Regions from separate parts of the Homo sapiens genome. Here region 2 is linked to region 1. Evidence: fine-mapped expression QTL. A gene starts in region 1. The other region holds a variant in brackets. All regions are shown on one strand. Distances are from middle to middle. Region 1 holds the start of HEATR6 (HEAT repeat containing 6). Region 2 holds the start of LOC105371848 (a long non-coding RNA gene).

The links.
Region 2: its variant is fine-mapped to the expression of HEATR6 in whole blood (TOPMed, PIP 0.99).

The regions. Positions count from the first base shown.
Region 1 is chr17:60,073,737-60,084,349 of GRCh38, reverse strand. It overlaps HEATR6 (HEAT repeat containing 6), which reads left to right and starts at 5,429. Exons shown (of 20, transcript NM_022070.5): 1 at 5,429-5,654; 2 at 8,113-8,220; 3 at 10,464-10,604. The coding sequence starts at 5,436. It overlaps HEATR6-DT (HEATR6 divergent transcript), which reads right to left and starts at 5,041. Exons shown (of 2, transcript NR_135648.1): 1 at 4,878-5,041. It also overlaps the pseudogene WFDC21P. RefSeq lists a silencer at 5,643-5,772.
Region 2 is chr17:60,010,183-60,020,795 of GRCh38, reverse strand. LOC105371848 (a long non-coding RNA gene) reads right to left here and starts at 1,650. Exons shown (of 2, transcript XR_007065868.1): 1 at 1,573-1,650; 2 at 785-1,115. It also overlaps the pseudogene TBC1D3P1-DHX40P1 and the pseudogene TBC1D3P1. RefSeq lists an enhancer at 9,739-10,238. The variant G/A (reference allele first, on the strand shown) is at 4,855.

The sequences.
Region 1 (10,613 bases):
CAAAAAAAATTAGCCAGATGTGGTGGGGGCACCTGTAGTCCCAGATACTCAGGAGGCCGAGCCAGGAGAATGGCGTGAACCTGGGAGGTGGAGCTTGCAGTGAGCCGAGATCGCACCACTGCACACCAGCCTGGGCAACAGAGGGAGACTCCATCTCAAAAAATAAAAATAAAAATAAAAATAAAGAGTATGTTCATTTTAACCCTGTGATGTACATTGCCATGTTGACTTATGAGAACCCCTTTTCTGTGAAAATATCTCAGGGGCCTCACAGGATAATTTATTTGTTTTCAGTAGCCATTAGTTGAAAAATGCATAATAAAAAGCTACCAGTTTTGATTATAAACTAAGTTGCACTAAACACAACAGAATCAGCATACACTTTAAATAAAAACCCTTTGTGTTCAGAATGTATTGTTTGGCCAATCCACCTGCAATCCTTGGACTGCTTAGGGCCTGGCTGGCTCTTTGCAGGTGTGATTGATTTCCCAAATTGGGAACTGTTGCCTCTTGATTGTATTCTGTGGATCCAGGTCCCCAAAACAGCAGGTCTCGGGCAAAATTTTTTTTGTCTTTTTCTCAGATGAAGAGTTATCTTAAGGATCATCTTTCCCTAAGATCGTCATCCCTTCCTGGAGTTCCTATCTTCCAAGATGTGACTGTCTGGAGTTCCTTGACTAGGAAGATGGATGAAAACAGCAAGCCTGTGGATGGAGACTACAGGGGATATGGGAGGCAGGGAAGAGGGGTTGTTTCTTTTAATAAATCATCATTGTTAAAAGCACTCATACTATTTGAGTTATTTGGTTAAAGGTGAGGAGGAGGGGGAGGAGGACAGATGACATTTGTTGCGTACTGACTATCAACAAGGACCATGTTAAATTCTCCCCAGGCATTATCTAAGTAACCTTAACAACCTTTTGACTGCACTTCTTATCATTACCATTTGAGGACACTGAGGTTTGGGGCAGAGTCATATAGCAGGTAAGTGTCAGGGCCTAAACTATAATCTCATGTCGAACGCCATATAAGTCCTATGCATTATAGCATGGTGGTCAGGAGCCCTGACTCTGAATTTCAAACCCAGGCACACCACACAGCCATGTGGCCTTCAGTGAGAGTCTTCATCTTTCTGTGATTCGACTCATATATATAATAGTACCTCATGAAACTACAAAGATTAAAGAGGGTCACATAAAGTGCTGACACATAGAAAGCATTCAGTAAGTGTTAACTACAATGATTATTAACACAGTAGTACCCCTAATCCACGGGGGATATGTTTCAAGACCCCCAGTGAATGCACAAAACCGTGGATCGTATCAAACTCTACATATACTGCCGTGGATAGTATCAAACTCTCTATATATGTGTTCTGTCCTATAAATACATCCTTATGATAAAGTAAATTTATAAATTAGGCACAGTAAGAGATTAACAATAACTAATAATAAAATAGAACAAATATAACAATATGCCAGCATCACTACTCTTATGCTTTGAGACCACTAAGCAAAATAAAGGTTACTTGAACACAAGCACTGGGACAGTGGATCTCATAACTGAGATGGTTATTAAGTGACTAACGGGTGGGTAGCATATAAAGCGTGGATATGCTTGACTAAGGGATGATTCACATTCCAGGCAGAATGAAGTGGGATGGCGCAAGATTTCATCACGCTACTCAGAACAGCAGCAAGTTGAAATGTATGAATTGTTTATTTCTGGAAATTTCCATTTCGTTTTTTTTTTCTTTTTTTTTTGGACGGAGTTTTACTTTGGTCACCCAGGCTGGAGTGCAATGGTGTGATCTCGGCTCACTGCAATCTCTGCCTCCCAGGTTCAAGTGATTCTCCTGCCTCAGCCTCCCAAGTAGCTGGGATTACAGGCGTGTGCCAACACGTCCGGCTAATTTTTGTATTTTTAGTAGAGATGGAGTTTCACCATGTTGGTCAGCTGGTGTCGAGTTCCTGACCTCCAGTGAGCAGCCCGTCTCGGACTCCCAAAGTGCTGGGATTACAGGCATGAGACACTGCGCCCAGCGCATTTCATATTTTCATACTGTGATTGACCACGGGTAATTGAAAAGGCTGAAAGTGAAACTACTGATAAGGGGGGACTCCTATGTAATCACATAGATAGGCTGATGACCCTGAAACAGAACTCAAGGCCAATCCTCCTTCCTAGCCTCTCCTGGTTCAAAGTGTAATCTGGATACCGAAATCAAGCTCCTGTCTTCTGGTTTTCCCCATTACAAAATGTGGGAGGTAAAAAACAATGGGTTTATAATTTCTTGTCTATGTTCTTCACAATCACAGCCAGCCTGGGCTGCAATCTGATTTCAACCAATTTGCTGCCTGTGCAGCCTTGACCAACCATTTATACTCTTCGGCACCATTTTCCCAACTATAAAAGGGGGAAATAATATCTACCTCATTTGATACTAAGACTTATAAAACTTTATAGTTTACAAAGCATTTTCACAAAAATCCCATTCGATTTTCACATCAACCGGTGGCAAATAGGGGACCCTGAATAAAAAATTAGTGAATTCATTCATTCTGTTAACAAATATTGTGGGGCATCTACCACATCCCAGGGGCTGTGCTAGCCCTGGGATACAACAGCGAATGAGACAAACGGGAACTGTGCCTTCATAAAGTTAATATTCTAGAGGGGAAAACAGATGATAAAGTCATCAAATAAACAAGATAACTGCAGGTTATGGTAAATTTTCCGAAGGAAATAATCAAAGATGTGAATTAGAGTGAAGTGGGGGTATGCAAGCCTACGTGAGTTAGGATGACCCAGACGCTCATGAAGGGATAAAAGTGAAGTCTTGAGAGGTTTCCACACATGAAAGGAGTGAAATTCCACTGAGGTTCCAGATCATCCGATGCAGAATCTAACAAAGGAAATGGCTGTGAACGTGCTTAGCACCCCTTAAAGCCCCTCAGTCACTGCAGGACTATGAAAATGCAGAGAATTGAGGAGGAGACAGAAGATTTTCTTGGAAGAGAGCTTTTGCCATGCTGTGTTTCCACAGTTTCAGGGTGGGAGGTGGGAGCAGGAGTGCTACTGTCTAAACTCAAGCCAATGCAGGGTGCCTTCAAAGGCCTCCCTCAGAGCTTGAGATACGTTTCCTTCAGTTGGTGATCACTGCAGAGTAGGGATGTCCATTTCCTTAAAGGAACCACACTGATCCAAAACAGTATATTCTACCAGAACTGAACAGACCGGCATCAGTATACTGTATTTTACAATTCCTGGGCCATTCCACCCTGAATAACACAATATGTAGGTCATCCATATTGCAACTTAAAGTGAACCACACCAAACCCAGATCCTTTCCAGTCTCTTCGAACGTGCATTGTGGAAATGACCAGGCCTCACATCCTTCTAGCCCAATGTGTAAGACAGCTCTTTAGTACTACTTCACATACTCTTGGTCTTACATTCTTACTCTAGCCATTGCTACAGCAACTAGTTTATCACAGGCATCTACTAGCTTAGCACAGGTATAACTGGTGAGAGCCTTGCCTCAGATATGCACCTAGTTTCCTCACTTTTGCCTCAGGGCTTCTTTGACTATGCAACATAGGACTCCTCCAGGAACCAAGCACAGATGCATGCTCAACACAGGAACACCAGTGAATTAATGCCTTGTGGTCAACTTTTGACAATAGACTTCAAAAGCTGACAGATAAATGCTTTTCCTCTCTGTTCCTCAGAAGAAGGGTTTTGAGAGCTTCACAAGGCTTCTCAGAAACTCCTGAGGACTGAACAATCAGTCACCCCTTGCAATGGCCAACTCAATAGCACATATTGGTATTAATTCTCCTTCCTTCCCTGTTCATTTCTGGATAAATCCCTCACCTATCAACCTCATCTGAGGCTCTGCTATCAGGGAACCCAGATTAAAATATCCAACGACTAGGTTTCAGCTCCTGATCTTCTCTGAACAAATGCTTGAATACATTTCTTTACACGAATACACACACACACATGCACATATATAACGCACATATGTACACAGACTAGGAATAAGAAATAATATACCAGCACAACGGAATCTAAATCCAAACAAAAAAATTAACATTTCTCCCCAAGCCCAAAGTCTTCAGAAAACTACCTCTGCTAAAGCATACCCCCAATTTTCACTGCTGAACAGAAATGTTTTGTTCTCAGGATAAAACATACATTCAGGTGACTTCAAGGTTTTCCCTAAGGGCCAAGGGTGAGGATTTGCTTTATATTTGCATAACTCAAAGGCCCTAGAGATGGTTTTCCCAATCTGCCCAACTGTGAAAGTCAAGCCTTCACTTCCTGGATGACTGAAAAGTGATCACAGATTTTTAAATGGCCATTTTATTCTCCAGCTTCTTGACTTCAAGGTTTCAGAAAATCTTGGGGTGTCTCATTTCAACCCGGTCACTCTTAGGCAGATTATATTTTACATGATTCAGTTAAACTCCAAAATTACTCTTCTAGTGGGGCGAGGTGCCTCATGATCCATGAGAGGATTCACACTGGGAAAAAGGGAGAAAAAGGAACCAAGAGTACAGCCAGCTGTCACTTAAGTAGGGAAAGCTGCCTTATATTCCACTGACCAGATTGCAATCACAGAGCCACAGCCAACTGCAAGGAATGCTAGGGAACGTAGCCTTTATTCCGGGTGGTTTTGTGCCTGGGGAAAGATTTTAGAAGAGTAGAAGGGTGCCTTAGAACTAGCGGTTTCTGCTACTGCCATCCACAGCATACCCTCTCCAACTCCAGCCCGAATCTGAAACTCTAGTACGGAACAGAGTACCTTCAGCCCTGTCCAGGAACAAACTCTGGGAGGACAAACTTTCTGGAAGCACAAATTGAGAACTCACTTTTCAGTCAGGGCTCAAGAAGGAGTGGCCGGCGAAAAATCTCCAAGCCAATTTCTTTCTTTTTTTTTTTTTCTGAGACGGAGTCTCGCTCTGTCGCCCAGGCTGGAGTGCAGTGGCGCGATCTTGGCTCATTGCAAGCCCTGCCTCCCGGGTTCACGCCATTCTCCTGCCTCAGCCTCCCGAGTAGCTGGGACAACAGGCGCCCGCCACCACTCCCGGCTAATTTTTTTTTTTTTTTTTTTTTTGTATTTTTAGTAGAGACGGGGTTTCACCGTGTTAGCTAGGATGGTCTCGATCTTCTGACCTCGTGATCCGCCCGCCTCGGCCTCCCAAAGTGCTGGGATTACAGGCGTCAGCCACCGAGCCCGGCCTCCAAGCCAATTTCTGACAAGCATCTGCAGGGTACCGGTCGGAGGAGTCCCGTAGTCATGGAAACCCCTCTGAGCCCCAGTCCGGTCTAAAAAAGGTACTTTCGGAACTAGAGCGCGCGGAACGGGAGGATGTCCCGGAAGTATTTCCCTGGGATCACCCCACCCACCCCCCCCGCCCGTAGAAAAGATGGCTGCTGTGCAAGTTGTCGGTTCGTGGCCTTCCGTGCAGCCGCGGGAGGCACCGCGGGAAGCAATCCCTGAGCGAGGCAATGGGTTTCGCCTCTTGTCTGCCAGGCTCTGCGCCCTGCGCCCGGATGACAGCAGCTCCGCCCGCACCGAGATCCACCTGCTCTTCGATCAGCTCATCTCCGAGAACTACAGCGAGGGCAGTGGCGTGGCCCCGGAGGTAGGCGGCGCGCCCTGCTGGCCCCGGCCCCGGCCCCACCCCTCCGGGAACCCAGCTGGTGGCCTCTGCCTGCCTTTCCCTGATCTTCCCACTCTCGCGCCTGATGATTTAGTTTCAGGATGGCGTGCCCCCTCCAACCTTGGCACATTCTTAGTTCTCCATTTGGAAGACCCTGCAGTGCTTGGCACGCTCGAGTCATTCAAAACCCAACTTGACGACTCCTGCTCTGATAATGCCTCGGGTTTCCTCTCTGATACCAACTTTCCATCCGCCCGCACCCTCCTTCACTCCCTCTCTGTGCACCCAGAACACTTGGTTGACAAAATGCATTACTACTGTTTATTGCGTACATGGTACACGGACCACGTGGGAATCTTAGAACTTGCGTAGTATTAGGGCTTGTTTGCTAATGAAAATACTGAAGCTCGTAAAAATACAGTATACAAAACTCTGCCACAAAGCCCCTATGTTTTCTGTTCCTACACACTAGCTCCTCCCCTCTGCCGTCTTTCTGAGTAATCTTACACACATCAGGCCTTAAATTAATGAATTCTCTGAACTGTTGACACCATGGCCTTCTGGCCCTACGTAGGAAAGAGGGAAGTGGTGCAAGTTGCCTGCTTGCACAGGCATCTCAAACTAGACAGTTCCTAAAGATGAAATTCATTAGCTCCAAACACGCATTCCCGTCCCCAGTCCATCCCACCTTCCAACACACATGCATCATCCACCAAGTCACACCAGACACAAACACTGGTTCTTCCCTCCTTCATCCCAGATCCTGACCAACTCAGGTATTTCAGAATGTGTCTCATATATATTTCTCAGTTCATCCCCTCCTGTCTATTCCCATAGCGAGTGCCTTAGACCTCAGGCAAGGCGACTTATGCCTGGACTGTTCGCTGATCCCCTCTGACTGATCTCCTGCCTCCTGTCTAGCTCCTCTCCAAGCCAGTCATTCCTCCAATGCCAGAATGATCTTTTCTTTAGGAGGAAAAAAAATTGTTCATAAACTTTAAAATCTGCTTTGGAAAAGTCTTCAATACGTATTGGTAAATGGTTGAAGCAAGTTGCAGGACAATTCATACAGAATGAGATCAGTATGAAGCTGGAGGAGGGATTTTAAAATATGTGTGTTTATATATGCAAAGTAAAAGGTCTGAAAGAATTGACTACAGAATAATAGTGTATGTCATTAGGAAGCAGAGTGAGATTAAGGCAGTAGTCGGGGACTTTTGCTGTATTTGTGTAATTGGATACTTTTGCAACAAAACTTCCATTCTCTCCTGTTACTCCCCCTTTTGTTCCTGTGTGCAGCCATTTAAAACTTGCTGTTCTTCAGGCACCTACTAGTGTTTCACACCTCCAGGTTTTTGCATACTCTGTCCACTTTGCTTGCAGTGTTTTTTGATGCCCTATCTGGCAAATTTCTCCTCATCCTTCAAATCATTCCAGATTCTGCTTTACAGTCACCTCCACAAGGCCTCCCTAATTACTGTTTCTGGACAGAGTTTGTACTTTATTCTTTCAGCACTTGATTCACCTTATTTTAATTATTTGTTGTGTTTCTTTCTCTCTCACTAGTTTGTGAGCTCTTTGAGGTTCAGGAACATGTTTGTTTTACCTTTGGAGCCCAAAGACCTAGCACACTATGACACATAGTAGGTGCTCAGAACCTTGTCATTCTATAAACATCGATGGATGAAGAGTGTGACTTGCAAATAGGTCCCTCTTTTTTTTTTTTTTTTTTTAAGAATTCCCTAATTATGCATAAAATCCATAGAAGTGTTAGGTCTGATTTTTCCCAATGGCATTGAAAATCTGGTTCACTTACCTTTTGATATTTTTAGCTTCAGTTTGTGCTTTCATACCCTAGAAGCCTTTTTCTGGTTATTTAATTATACTGTCTTTACATATAGAGAGCACAGAGTCTTCAGCCTGACCAAAACCGTACTGATTCTTTTCCTTTTTTTTTCTTTTTTCTTTTTTTTAAGAGACAAGGTCTCACTCTGTCATCCAGACTGGAGTGCAGCAGCAAGATCATAGCTCACTGTGACCTAAAACTCCTGGGCTCAAGCCATCCTCCCACCTCAGCCTCCCAAGAAGCTGGGACTACATACCACCATATCCAGCTAATTTTTTTAAAAAAGTTTTTTCTGTAGAGATGGAGTCTCACTATGTTGCCCAAGCTGGTCTTGGACTCCTGGGCTCAAGCAGTCCTCCCGCTTTGACCTCCGGAAGAACTGGGATTAGGTGTGAGCCACTGTGCCTGGCTTTTTCCTTCTTTTTTAGCACATGCTGTTTTTGTGCTATCACTTCATTTTTTTCCTTCCTGCCTCACATTTTCTTTCCCCATTTTGAATGTGAATATTTACTTTTATTTTCCCATTTGGCTGTGTTTTGAGGATCTTCACTTGACTAATAAGTATTTTACCTCTTATCTTTTTTTTTTTGGTAGGACGTTAGTGCTCTTCTTGTCCAGGCTTGCCGACTGGTACCTCTTAATCAGAATCATCTTGTCAGCAAAGTGAGCCAGCTTATCCACCATTTACTTAACAGATTACAGGTAATCATGTATGTAACTCTAGAATTCAGATCATGAACTTTGAGAGTAAGTAAATACCTTTGAAATACTACATCTGTAGTAGGTATGATAGGCTGTTTTTTGAGATGCTATAGGAAAAGCAAATGCCTAAATAAGAATGCTTTTAAAGCAAATATAACTCTGATCCAAAAAAATTATTCTGTAGAATTCTAGAAGTTTGTTTATTAGAAGTATGCCTTTCTGTTTGGTTCAGTAAACCAATATCATTCAGGCCCCCCAACCTTATAATTTCTTTTTTTTTTTTTTTTTTGAGACAGAGTTTCACACTGTTGCCCAGGCTGGAGTGTGGCGCGATCTCAGCTCACAGCAAGCTCCGCCTCCCGAGTTTACACCATTCTTCTGCCTCAGCCTCCCAAGTAGCTGGGACTACAGGCACCCGCCACCACGTCCGGCTAATTTATAATTTCTTATGGAAGATATATTTGAACAAAATATATCTAAGAATAAATTGAAATAATCCCCTGCCTCTTTCCCACCAATATTTTTCCCCTTTCCTGAAGCTACCATTTTTATGGTCTACTTTTGATGCTTCTAAAATATAAGAAGTAGCTTGGGGCCAAGGGGACAGCAGGATAAAAAGACCCCAGTTATTTATTTAAGACTGTTACCACATGAGTATGTGAATATATTTAAGAGCACAAAACATATCAACTAGCATTATGTGAATTAGGATGCTTTTGGCTGCAATAAGCAGAAAAGCCATCCCAGAGTCACTAAACAATTTTTAAAAAAATAAAAAGGAATCACTCCATGTCCCAAGTCCCAAGGGACGCATCTGTAGCCCCTTAATAATAAGAGGCTCATCTTTCCCTTCACCGTCCTCAGCATGTGGGTTATCCTCAGCTAGCATGTCTCACAGTCATAAGATGGCTGTGCCAATTCTGGACATCCCATGCCAAAGAAATGATTACTGTTCAGCAGAAGCTAATTAACTTTATTTTATGTTGTGTCTCTTGTACTTAACAGTAAGGAAACGTGTCCCATGAACTCTCTAGTAGACTCCCCAATATCTTGCTGGAGAGACTTAGGTCATATAAATACCTCTCTAAACCAGTCTTTAAGCAGGAGGATGGTCTTATTGTGAATGGCTCCAGCTAGTAGTTTCAACCTTCACTACACATTAGAATCACTTGGAGGAGGACTTAAGCTCCCTTGATGCTTACAATGTGCAGCCACAGTTAGCCTACATCAGGGTTTCTCAACCTCAGCACTATTGATATTTTGGCTCAGATCATTGTTTTAGGGGCTGTCTTGCACATTGTGGAATGTTTAGCAGCATCCTTGGCCTCTACCCACTAGACGCCAGTAGCACCTCTCCAATTGTGACAGTCAAAAATGTATACAGGCATTGCCAAATGTTCCTTGGGGGTTAAGGTTGCCCCAGGTTGCCCCACTCTCTTAAACTAATTAGCGTTTACCCTTAGGTCTCACATGGGAGAGGTGGACATCCAATTAAATTAGTACTCTGCCAGCAGGGAAGGAAGAAATGGATGCTAGTAGGTAACCAACAGTGTCTGCTGCATGGAGTAAGGCTGTTTTCAGTTTAGAATCTTTGAAACTAACATGAGGTAGCTTCTGTATGTTTACTATTCTCAGGTGTATCATCTTTGTAACACTGGCAATTGGAGATGTTCCTGATCACCTGTGGCACCTATAACCCTTTACCAGCTTTCCAGCACTTGGTGACAGTTTGTCTCAATTGTCCATAAATTGACACTTGGATTAGCCTGGTCTGTCCCAACAAGATTATCAGCTCCTTGACAGCAGGGATATGCCCTCTCTTCATGGTGTATTCCTCATGTCATGTTAGAGATGCAGTAGGTATTTAGCAGTTATATTGGTTCACTGTGTATTCATTGAGTGTTTATTATGTATAAGGCAGTTTAATTAAATTTCAGTGCGTTGAAATACTCATATCTGTGTATTCACAGCTGCCAATGTCTGGTTAGTTCAAGGAAAAGTTACAAGGACTTCATCAAGTTCTACTTTACTAAAGAGGAAGAAGTGAGCAAGACCTTGGGGTGGGGAGAAGGCCCCTACGTTGATCAAACTTTCAGGCCCTTTAGAGGTGATCCTTTTGACACATAAACGACAGACACACACTCTCTCTTTTATACAGCTTGATTCAGGTGAGCATACATGTCCATAAAAGCATAATATTTTTTAAAAGTTAGATCAGAATATATCTTTTCCTGTCCTGTTAGGTAATTGTTGATGAACAGCACTTGGATTTCCTGTTGGCATATACTATTTCGGCTATTCATCAGTGTAGTTCCTGGACACACAGGGAAATTCTTCAAGCCCTGGCAGCTCTGGTGTACTGCAATGGCTCCAAATGTCAAAAGGTAGTTTAA
Region 2 (10,613 bases), 64 kb after region 1:
TCCGGAACTGCAAGTCAATTAAGCCTGTTTCCTTTATAAATTACCCAATCTCAGGTATTTCTTTACATCAGTGTGAAAACAAATGAATACAGTCCCCTTCCCTGAGGTGCCTTCCCCTTAGGCAACCAGCTGCCCCCATGCTCCTCTTCTGCCCCCTGGTATTTCCTTTCCCCTCATGAGGCCCAAGTGATCCACATGGCCAGCCCCAGCCCCATCCTACTGCAGGCCTGTGTGGCTGCTGGAGAGGCCAGGCTCCTTTCCGCACCCCGAGGCTGCCCGATATGCTTTCTGGATCCTGTAGAAAACTGACCCACTATTCTCATACCGGTGCAACTTCTTCCAATACCTCAAAACTGGACAACGTGAACTTATCTTGTTGCTTGTCTCTTCTTGCTAGGGCTGTCATTGGGACAGTCCGAGATGGGGGGGTGGGGGGAGACAATGGATGAATGGATGGATGAATGGACAGTAGTCCAGGGAGATGTCCCTGTGTGTCCTGAACTGGGCCCTTCCTCCAATGAGAAGCCTTCCTGAGTGAGTTTCTACAGTCATCCCTTGGTATCCATGGATTAGTTCTAGGGTCCCCGGGGATGACAAAATCCATGGATCCTCAAGTCTCTGACATAACATGGCCTAGTATTTACATATCAGCTATGCACATCCTCCTGTAGACATTAGACCATCTCTAGATTATTCAGGATGTGTAATACAATGCAGATGCTACATAAATGGTCATGATACTGTATTCTTTAGGGAATAATGACAAGAACAAAGTCTGCACATGTTCAATAGAAATATAACCATCCAATTTATTTTCTGAATATTTTCCATCTGCTGTTGCTGAATCTACAGATGCAGAGCTCCTGGATATGAGAGCCAAGTGTGCTTTGAGAGTAGGGTGGGTGAGGTTGCTAATGAGTACAGGGGGACAGGTGTTGATCAGGAGGACCCTGCACTGGGGCATCTGGACGTCCTGCCTCAGGACTTGAGACTCCAGTTGGATGGCACAGGCAGACTCGGCACAGGCAGACTCAGCCCAGGTCAAAGCCGTCCCCTTGAAGTTTCATTTTATCCCAAGCTCTTTCTGGACCCTGGAATTTGGCATCCCCTAGGCCCTGCGTGGAAGGACAGATGAATCAGGTTTTAGATAACATGTCTAGAAGAGTGAGCCCCTACTGTGTGCCCGGCACTTTCCTCACAGGATCCTCTAGCTAGAATATCCAAGGGTCATGGAGAGAAATACCCAGTTAAAATATCAGAAATGAAAAAGCGATACCATTAGAGACACTAAAAAGACCATTAGGTAATAGTATTAGCTTTTGTATTCTGAGATCCAGCAGCAGCAGCAGTCACTTCCCTCCACCCCTATGTGTATCCCAGGACCACCCTGGGCAGGGAGGGCTGAGGTTAGGGAGCAGCCATGGATGCTCTGATGCTGGCCCTGGGCGCTCTGATGCTGGCCCTGGGCCTCGGGGGTGACAGTGATGAGGAACTGGGTGCACACATGAGTGGGGCAGCCGGGCCTGGCCAGAGAAGCAACACACATGTGCACAGACATGTTTAGCCACATACACGTGTGCACGCACGTGCACAAACACATTGCAGGCAGGCATGTTGACGCCTCAGGCAGCGGAGGACCCTGACTCTGGGCGCTGCTGACCCGGGCAAGGCCCCATTGTGATGCGTGCCATGACCTCAGAATGTCACTGGTGCTTAGCACCTATCCGCTCTCTGGCCTGCCTCAGTGTTCTACGGCAGTTACACACAGGCAGTGGTATCTGTGAGCAGCTCTGTGGACTCAAAGGTTTTCTCCCTGAGAGGCATGACCCAGGCCAGCTGATTCATCAGAGTCAGGTGAGCGTGACCTGCTCTCTTCCCTCCAGGCGGACTTGGAGACAGTGGCTACGGTGCGGGCGGTGTTGGCCTCTGTGGGGCAGCTACCGAGGAGGGTCATCCCTGAGCACTCACCAGGCGCCCGTTCTACACTGCCCGTGTAGACGATTGGCTCTTTCGTCTCCATGGTGGCTTCGTAGAGTGGGTGCTGTTCCCAAATGTAACCATTCGACAGATGAGACGTCTGGGGTCAGAGAGGCAGTAACCGGCCTGGGAATCCGGACATGACCCTGAGTTTTGCTCTCAGCCCTGCCGTGTGCTGTGCTGGAATTCAGGCCTGAACCCTGTGACCTCCCTGCCCTAGATCCCAAATCTGCCCAGGTTTCCGATCCCGATGGGGCAGAGCCTGGTCCTGGCAGAGCCACTGGTACAGATCCACTGGTACAGATCCACTGGTATAGATCCACTGACGGTCCTCAGAACACCTCTGTGCCCTAAGCTGGGTCCCGATGGTCGCTGTGGGCCCCACTGAACACACATGGTCCCTTGTCCGGGGGAGCCTGCTGCCCTTGGGCAGCTGTGGAAAATGAAGGAGCCCTGGAGGGCTGGCTGAGGGGAGACTATCTTCCCTTCTGTTCAAAGGGGTCCGGGCACTAGGGTTCTCCCCAGGCATTTCTTGCTCTGTGTGGTCCTCTTGAGGCCTCGCCCTCCTTTTGCCTCGAGTATTCCCAGGAGGGACGGTCCATCCAGGTGTTCTCCAGGACCAAGGACCCACTGTTCTTCCTCAGTGACCCAGGAAAATGAAGCCTCCTCCTGTTGGGACGGCTCAGAATGGTGGACTCCACAGTCCCTCCGCAAGAGACGTGGTTTCCATGCGTACAATAGATCTTTCTCATCCCCCAAACCGAACACCCTCCTGCTCAACAGGCGTTATTCCTGAAGTGGCTTCACTGTTCAGACTGAAGAGCCACGGTAGCCAAAGTGATGAGCGGAGTAGAACCGAGCAGTCAGGAGAGATCTTGTTCCCTGTAGGAAACTGGGCATCTCTGAGGCCCTGAGCATCCCAGGAGGCCGATTGTACAGAGACCTCTGGTCGCTGACCCCAGTCTGCCTCCACATCCCTGGAATAGCCCATCATGGGCCCTTCACCCTTGGCAGGTGGAAACCATTCAACCTGCTGGGGCCGGTGTGTCCCCATTTCATGGCACTGGGGGACAACAGGATTCTCTGTCTAGGTCCCACTGTACTCAAGTCCTTGGGAAGATGCCCACCCCTGCTTGGGACTTGAGACTCCAGAGACTCGAGCAGCTGTGGGCCACTGGGTCTGGCCCCTTTTTCCCTGGGGGCGGCGGTGGAATGGGGGTTACGCAGCCAGCCAGCATCTGGGAGCCCGGCGAGAGCGGTTCAGGTGTTCTCCGAAGCCGCCGCGTACAGTGTAACCTTTAGACAATTTTGTCTCACAGGATGGACGTGGTAGAGGTCGCGGGTAGTTGGTGGGCACAAGAGCGAGAGGACATCATTATGAAATACGAAAAGGTACAAGTCGGTCTGCTTCTTGGAGGGAGGCCTCTTCCAGTGTGCCCTGGTCAAAGGGTCCTGGGCTCCCTAGGAGCACAGGGCAGGGACGGGTGGCCAATGCCCCCAGGCCCTTGCACCCTTTACCTTGGACCCCTCACCAAGGCTCCCTCTGGGCTACAGGGACACCGAGCTGGGCTGCCAGAGGACAAGGGGCCTAAGTCTTTTGGAAGCTACAACAACAACGTCGATCATTTGGGGATTGTACAGTGAGTCCTCTGCACTCCCCTCACCCCTAAAGCACCTGTCTCAGCTCAGGGATGGGTTTGCTTTTAGAAAGGCCTTTCTGATGCAGGACATGTCTCACCAGGTCGGGTCAACCTCCTTTCCAGGGACAGAACTCCTCCCTGACTCCCCTGCAGGTCCAGCCCGAGGTTGTTGTTAGGCCAGAGGTGTGGGGCCCATCTAGGGAGCTGGTGGGAATGGAGACTGGGCTAGGTCAGGCCCCTGGGCGCTCAGCAGTTCTGTCGGCAAGTGAGCACAAGAGGAGCTGGGCAGCCTGAGGGTCTGGCCCTGTCTACTTGGAGACAACCCCGGTGAGATGCAAGGGTTATGGCCACAGGGTGAGGGGACGCCTGGCCCGGCCTCAGGGCTGTTGTCCAGCAGGTCTCTGAGGGCCCACCTGCCCCTGTTCTCCCCCATGCCCCTAGAGCTATGGCCCTCACTGTCCCGTGAGGGGAAAAGGCATGGTGACAATGGGGGCTGTAGCCCTAGGAGAACGGGGGGAAGATGGGCAGGGCCCCGTTCTGGGCATCTCACGGTGAGGCCGGGGAGGCAGCAGGGCTCGCGGCTAAAGACCTGGGTCTGGTGCTGGGAAGGGATCTGGGGCCGGGTAAGAGGAGCCCAGCCAGGAGCCCATCCCTCAGGGATCACAGGATGGAGAGACAGAGGATCCCAGGGGAGGTAGGGCGGGAGGGAGCTGATGAGCCGTGCCACTTCTGAAACGCAGGGTGTGTGGCTCGGGTGCAGGGAGAGGCAGGTGGATGCTGGGAGGTCAGAACCTGCAAGGGCCTTGGGGCTGTCAAGTGGGATGGGCCCCTGGTGCACCCAGAGTACACGGGGCAGGTCTCAGGGCAGGCTCCCTTGACCCTGGCGGGGTGATGTGGTCACTCCCTGAGGGACTCCTGTCAGGGCCCGGTCACCCACCCTGGGCGGCCCCCATCCCATCTCAGGGCTAACCTTTCTCAGCTCCAGCAGAAAGCACCACCTCGAGTCCAGGACGGGCAGCCCCACTGGGCAGCCTGACCGCCCCCCACGCCAGGGGCCCCAGTAACCCCGGCCAGGCTGTCCCTACACTCCTTCTTCTCCCAGGTCCTGCCCCTCCTGGGAGTCAGCCCCACAGGAAGGCCCTTGTCCTCCCTTCCCTGTGCCTTCTCCTGGGCTGAGCCCTGAGCTGGAAAGGGACAGAGCCAGTCCTTTCTGGGGGCCGGCACCCAGGCTGGGGCC[G/A]CTCCAGGCCCCGTGCAGTTCCTCAGCTCTGCCTGGGTTGCCTTACAGTGAGACGGAGCTGCCTCCTCTGACTGCGCGGGAGGTGAAGGTAAGAGCCTGATGCATGGAGGGGCTGGTCCAGGGACGTAGGGACTGGGCGGGTGGTCAGTGAGGCAGAGGAAGCAGCTGGCCTGAGCGGTGGCGGGTGAGGGCAACGCGCTGTCACTGGGAGGGGCAGCAGTCCCTGCTGGACCTGACCCCAGGTTGCTGTTAACTTTGGCAGTTTGATAAAATTCCAAAAGGAGAACCACAGTCCTGGCTTGGGGGTGGCTGCGCGCTTGTGTCAGGATCCCACCTAGAGGCTGGGACCTAAGACTGGTGTGGCTGTGGCCTGAGGATGGTACATCCCGGGGTCCCAAAGCCAGCCCACTGGTGCTCATTTGCTCAAAGGCTCTCAGCCCTTGAGGTCTGCCCTTCCCTGGCTCCTTCCAGCTGGCTCCCACCAGGGCTCCAGAGCCCAAGACCCAGCATCCGCGGGCGGCTCTGGGAAGCCTGGCAGCTCCGCTAACTCCAACATGCCTCATTTGACAGCAAATTCGGCGGGAGATCAGCCGAAAGAGCAAGTGGGTGAAAATGCTGGGAGAATGGGACACCTACAAAAACAGCAGAAAGGTAATGTGTGGAGGGAGGAAGCACTCTCTGCAGAGACAGGGGACAGGCACCCATGGCTGTGGCCTGGCGCCGTCAGCCTCTCAGAGGGTGGGTGGCACGCTGTCCTCGCCCAGAGGACTGCAGGCCTGGTCGCCAGATTTCCTGCCTATTCGTGCAAGCGTCACCTTGCTGGGAGGGAATCTGAATCTAGGGCTGGGACTACCCGGAGCTCAAGGCTAGGGATGCCCTGGTGACCTGAAGGAAGGAAAAGGTTCAGATCAGAGTTTCGACTCTGAGTGTCCATCCACTCTTTCAGTCCTGGGAAGGGAGACCCTGTCCCAGCTTGATCTCACCTCTACTGAGGAATCATGGGGCCAAAACCAACAATTTCCAGAATCCCCGGGCTCTGGTCCTCACTGGGGTCACCCCGTGGCCTGCGACACCAGATTGTTTTCTGCCCACAGCTCATAGATCGAGCGTACCAGGGAATTCCCATGAACATCCGGGGCCCGATGTGGTCAGTCCTCCTGAACATTGAGGAAATCAAGTTGAAAAACCCCGGAAGATACCAGGTACGCTCAGCCAGAGCACAACCAACAGGACAGGCCGTGTCAGGGGCCCAGGTCTCCAGCTGGAGGGAACGTCAAGACCACCCTGGGGAGCTGGGGGTGAAGGTCAGATGAACACCCTGGGCACAGATGGTGACACAGTCACCACAGACAAACTCAGCTCTGGTGACCCTCCCTGGCTTCAGTAACAAGCCAAAATGCAGCTTTCTGCAGAAGGAAACCTTCCTTCTGTCCTTCCTTCCCGAAGTGCTGACTGTGGGCTGACTGCCACTGGGGGCAGGGAGTCTTCCATCTGTTCTGAGACTGCTTCCTCCTCTTGGCCCTGCCCTACAGATCATGAAGGAGAAGGGCAAGAGGTCATCTGAACACATCCAGCAGATGGACCTGGACGTAAGCGGGACATTAAGGAGGCATATATTCTTCAGGGATCGATACGGAACCAAGTAAGCCACAGGGTCCCAGCAGAGATGGGGTGAATGAGAGGGATGGGGGCTTCCCCGGAGCAGAAGCCAGGGTCACCCAGGAGGGATGACACAGCTGCCAAGAGCTCTCCTGGCCCAGGGAGCAGCCGGCACCATGAACCGAGCACCTCCCTGGTTCCAAGCCCTGGGCCAGACTGGAACATGTGGGGCCAGAACCCAGGAGGATCCTGAGGAGATGGAAGGCAGCAAACAAAATCATGCACAATGGTGAAAGGTGCTCTCCCTGACCCATGGGGACCCATGGTAGGAGCCACGGGAGGGTGGCAGGATAGAGGGCACCAAATGCTGGGAGAATTAGGGGTCCTGGAAACTCTCATCCAGGTCTGCTGGGAACATGACATGGCACAGCCACGTTGGCAGCCAGTTGGGCAGTGGCTCACAAAGCTCGATGGACTTGAACCACGCATCCCCAAAGTGTCACAGAGATTGAACCCACTGATTTGGAAACTGACATCCACATGAAACCTGCATGCCAGGTTCACTGCTTGACTCCTCGTCACTCACACACGGAGCCTTCGGGGACGGCCTTCAACACGGGAATGGGGAGAGCAAGGCTGGTCCTCCCTTCAAACGGAAGACCCAGTGAGAAAAGGGAACGAGCCAGTGATGCCCGCACGAACGTGGGTGGATCCTAGATGCATTTTGCTGAGGGACAGAAGCCAGACCCAATAAGCTACCACAGTAGGATTCCCATTCCTAGGCCATTCTGGAAAAGGCCAAACCACAGGGACTGAGAAGCAGTCTGGGTGGCCAGGGGCTGACGGATCGGGGAGAGGCTGGGTGCATAGGGGCCACCCTGGAGACTTGGAGGATGAAGGAGTCGCCCCAGGAGGGGCTGGAGCGGTGGCCGGGAGACTCTGCACATTGGTTTGGAACCGTGGAGGAACTGTACACCCACAGACTGAACTGGGGTGTGTGCAAACTGAAAAAAAAAAAAAAAATCATTCAGAGTGAAAAGGATCAGGCACTGTACAACTGGGCTATTTGCATGTCACAGATGTGGATTTTACTGAAACATTTCTTCAAGAGTCTCAGGCCCTGAAGAGCTCACTGCTTATCCGGTGAATCATCTGAACCTGAAATGGGATTTGCTGTTAGGCTTTGTAGACAAAGTGAAATTAACAACATCTGCACAAAACAAACCAAAGCCCCCTTTCTCTGTTTCCTAGGCAGCGGGAACTACTTTACATCCTCCTGGCGTATGAGGAGTATAACCCGGTGAGTATTCCCGGCAGTGAGGTTCCCGGGCCATATTTCCATATTCACAGGAGTGGGTGTCTGGTGGGGGTGTCGTTGCTTCTTTTAAAATTAGTATTTGTGACCCACCAGGATATAGGAAGTAGGATGTCAGCTCACTGCTGGCATAAACCTCCAAGGAAGGGGGTGGTCTCAAGGGGTCAAGCTGATACACAAAGGAGTCAGGGCCTGGACTCCTGGTGTCACCTGGGCCTGACCACCACTTCTCAGAACAAGAAATGACGCCGTCCTCCTGGGGCTGCCCCAAAGCCCAGGAGCTTGGCAGCATCGCACACAGGATGGTGCTATCAGCAGACATTTTGGACAAGGTGCTGAAGTGCCTGATGGACTTGGCTCTTGTCATGAAATGAATGTGCATCCTGAGGAAGCCTCTTTTTCAGAGGAAGCCTCTCCTTCAGAGGAAGCCTCTCCAGTCACCTCTGCCCTCTCCAATGACATGAGTCCTCCCAGGTGAGCTCAGCCCTCCCAGCTGATGTCCTTCCATGGTGACTCTGGCTCTTGCAGGAGGTGGGCTACTGCAGGGACCTGAGCCACATCGCCGCCTTGTTCCTCCTTTATCTTCCTGAGGAGGATGCATTCTGGGCACTGGTGCAGCTGCTGGCCAGTGAGAGGCACTCCCTGCAGGGTAAGTGAACAGCTGCCCCGGGGACCTCCTGCAGCCAGACCTGGGGATGGCCACCCTGGCCAGGTGATCACAGCTTTCAGCCAAGGCACCCTCCTTGTGTCACCAGCTTGTTGGGAGACTTTAGGATGTCTCTGCTGAGGGTCCCACAGGAGTCCACGGCTGACCCCCAAAGCCCAAATCAGACGCCTCTCATCCCCATCAGCAGAGGGCATCTCATCCTCCCCGTGGCCACCCTCTGTGTCCTGGAGCCACGCCCTCCGGCTCTGATTCTGTGCAGCTGACTCTCCCCCTCCCTGAGAGTCCTCCTGCCCTCCAGCTGCCCGGGCTCCTGCTGCCATCGGTGCCCACGAATGGGCCGACCAAGCCCAGGTGGCAGCATCTCCCCATCCCCTGTTCCCTGGCCCGACCCCACTACCAGGAGATGACCAGGAAGCCCAGCACCCACCCAGTTCCAGCCGCCCTGTGGTGGCCTGAAAGTCAGGCTTGCCCTTTTTGCACCCTGGCCCAGGAGGCCTCCAGGGGAACCTCCAGCCAGGCTCCAGGGACTGTTCCCGCCCCACCTCCCCAGGGTAAAGGCCGCATGTTGGGGTCACCAGATGGGAGGGTGGGAGGCCTTGGGGTTTGGGGGCCTCTCCAGCTGCCCAGCTCTTGCAGCTGATGGCTCCACATCTTGGGGGAAGGCTCTGATTTCACGATGGGCTGGGGGCTTCTCAGGATTTCACAGCCCAAATGGCGGGACCGTCCAGGGGCTCCAAGACCAACAGGAGCATGTGGTAGCCACGTCACTACCCAACACCATGTGGCATCAGGTGAGTTTATGGTCCCCTCAGCTCTTCCCAGAGGCCCTGCCTCCCGTGGGGCTGTAGGAGCAGGGGGGCTGGAGCCCCTCGTGGGGCTGGTGACTGGCTGAGTCCCAGCCAGGGCCTGACCTGGGACGTCGGGTTCTCCATGGGCTGGGAGTTGGTTTCCTTTCCTGCCCTGGAGGAGACAGAGGCACAGGGATGGGGGCCCAGCTCCCGCAGAGCAGGGCAAAGGGCAGCGTGTCCACCGGGAGTGTGGGAAGGTGACAGTGTTGTGGGGAGCTCTGGACACCGCCCAGTGTTCTGCACTAGGGGAAGGGTCTTCAGAGGCCCTGGAAGAGGGAGGTTTTTAGGGCAGCCCAGTGGCCTGAGCACCTCTGTTGCTTCCATCAGGACAAGAAAGATCTATGTGGGCAGTGTTCGTCCTTAGGCTGCCTCATCCGGATATTGATTGACGGGGTAAGGAGGCATAGGGAGACCCTGGCTCAGGGACCCTCCTTGCCCTGCAGTGCCCTGCTTCCCCAGCCCGGGGGTCTGGCTCACTCCCAGCCCACAGGAGGCTCAGGCGGGTCCCCAAAGGACACACAAGCAAAACCCTCTGCCCAAGAGGGGTCATCCCAGGGCAATGGCTGGGGCTCAGGCCCAGCCTCATGGGCAGACTGGGCCAGGACCCGACTTGAGAGGGCTCAGGGAAGCCTCAAGCCCTGGGCAAGCCCCTCTCTCCAGGAGCCACATCCCCACTCAAATGAGTGCCTCCCATGAGGAGCTTCAAGACCTTGTCTGACCCAGCGTCCTGGAGGGCTCAGGCGACCCTCATGGGGAAGGAAGGTCACTGACTCAGGAGACTGAAGCCCCAGTGTGCGCAGCTCGAGCCACCAGCCCCAGCCTGGAAGGACCAGGTTCTTTCACACCTGCTGTCCCCACAGATCTCTCTCGGGCTCACCCTGCGCCTGTGGGACGTGTATCTGGTAGAAGGCGAACAGGCGTTGATGCCGATAACAAGAATCGCCTTTAAGGTTCAGTAGAGTAAGTCTACGTGTGCCCAGCGGGGCCTGGGGAGCCCTGGGGTCAGACCCCGACTGGCCCGAGGGCAGCTTCCTCACACTGTCCTCATGATCCTCTGTTCTGGCCCAGAGGGAGGTCTGGCCAGGTGGGCTGGGCAGGACACTGTGACACCGAGCCCATTCCCCACATGACCCAGATGAAAGTCGAGAGTGTGGTGAGCACTTCCCTGTCCAGATCACCCCCCAGCCACAGTCTCCTGTGTATATCTGGACGCCTGGGGTGGCCACAAAAGGATCCGGCACCGCCCAGTGGGAGACTGAAGTGGCCACGGGGTATGAGCTGTGACCATTCCCAGGTAACTCCCCTGGCCTGATATCCACCCTGTCCCTAG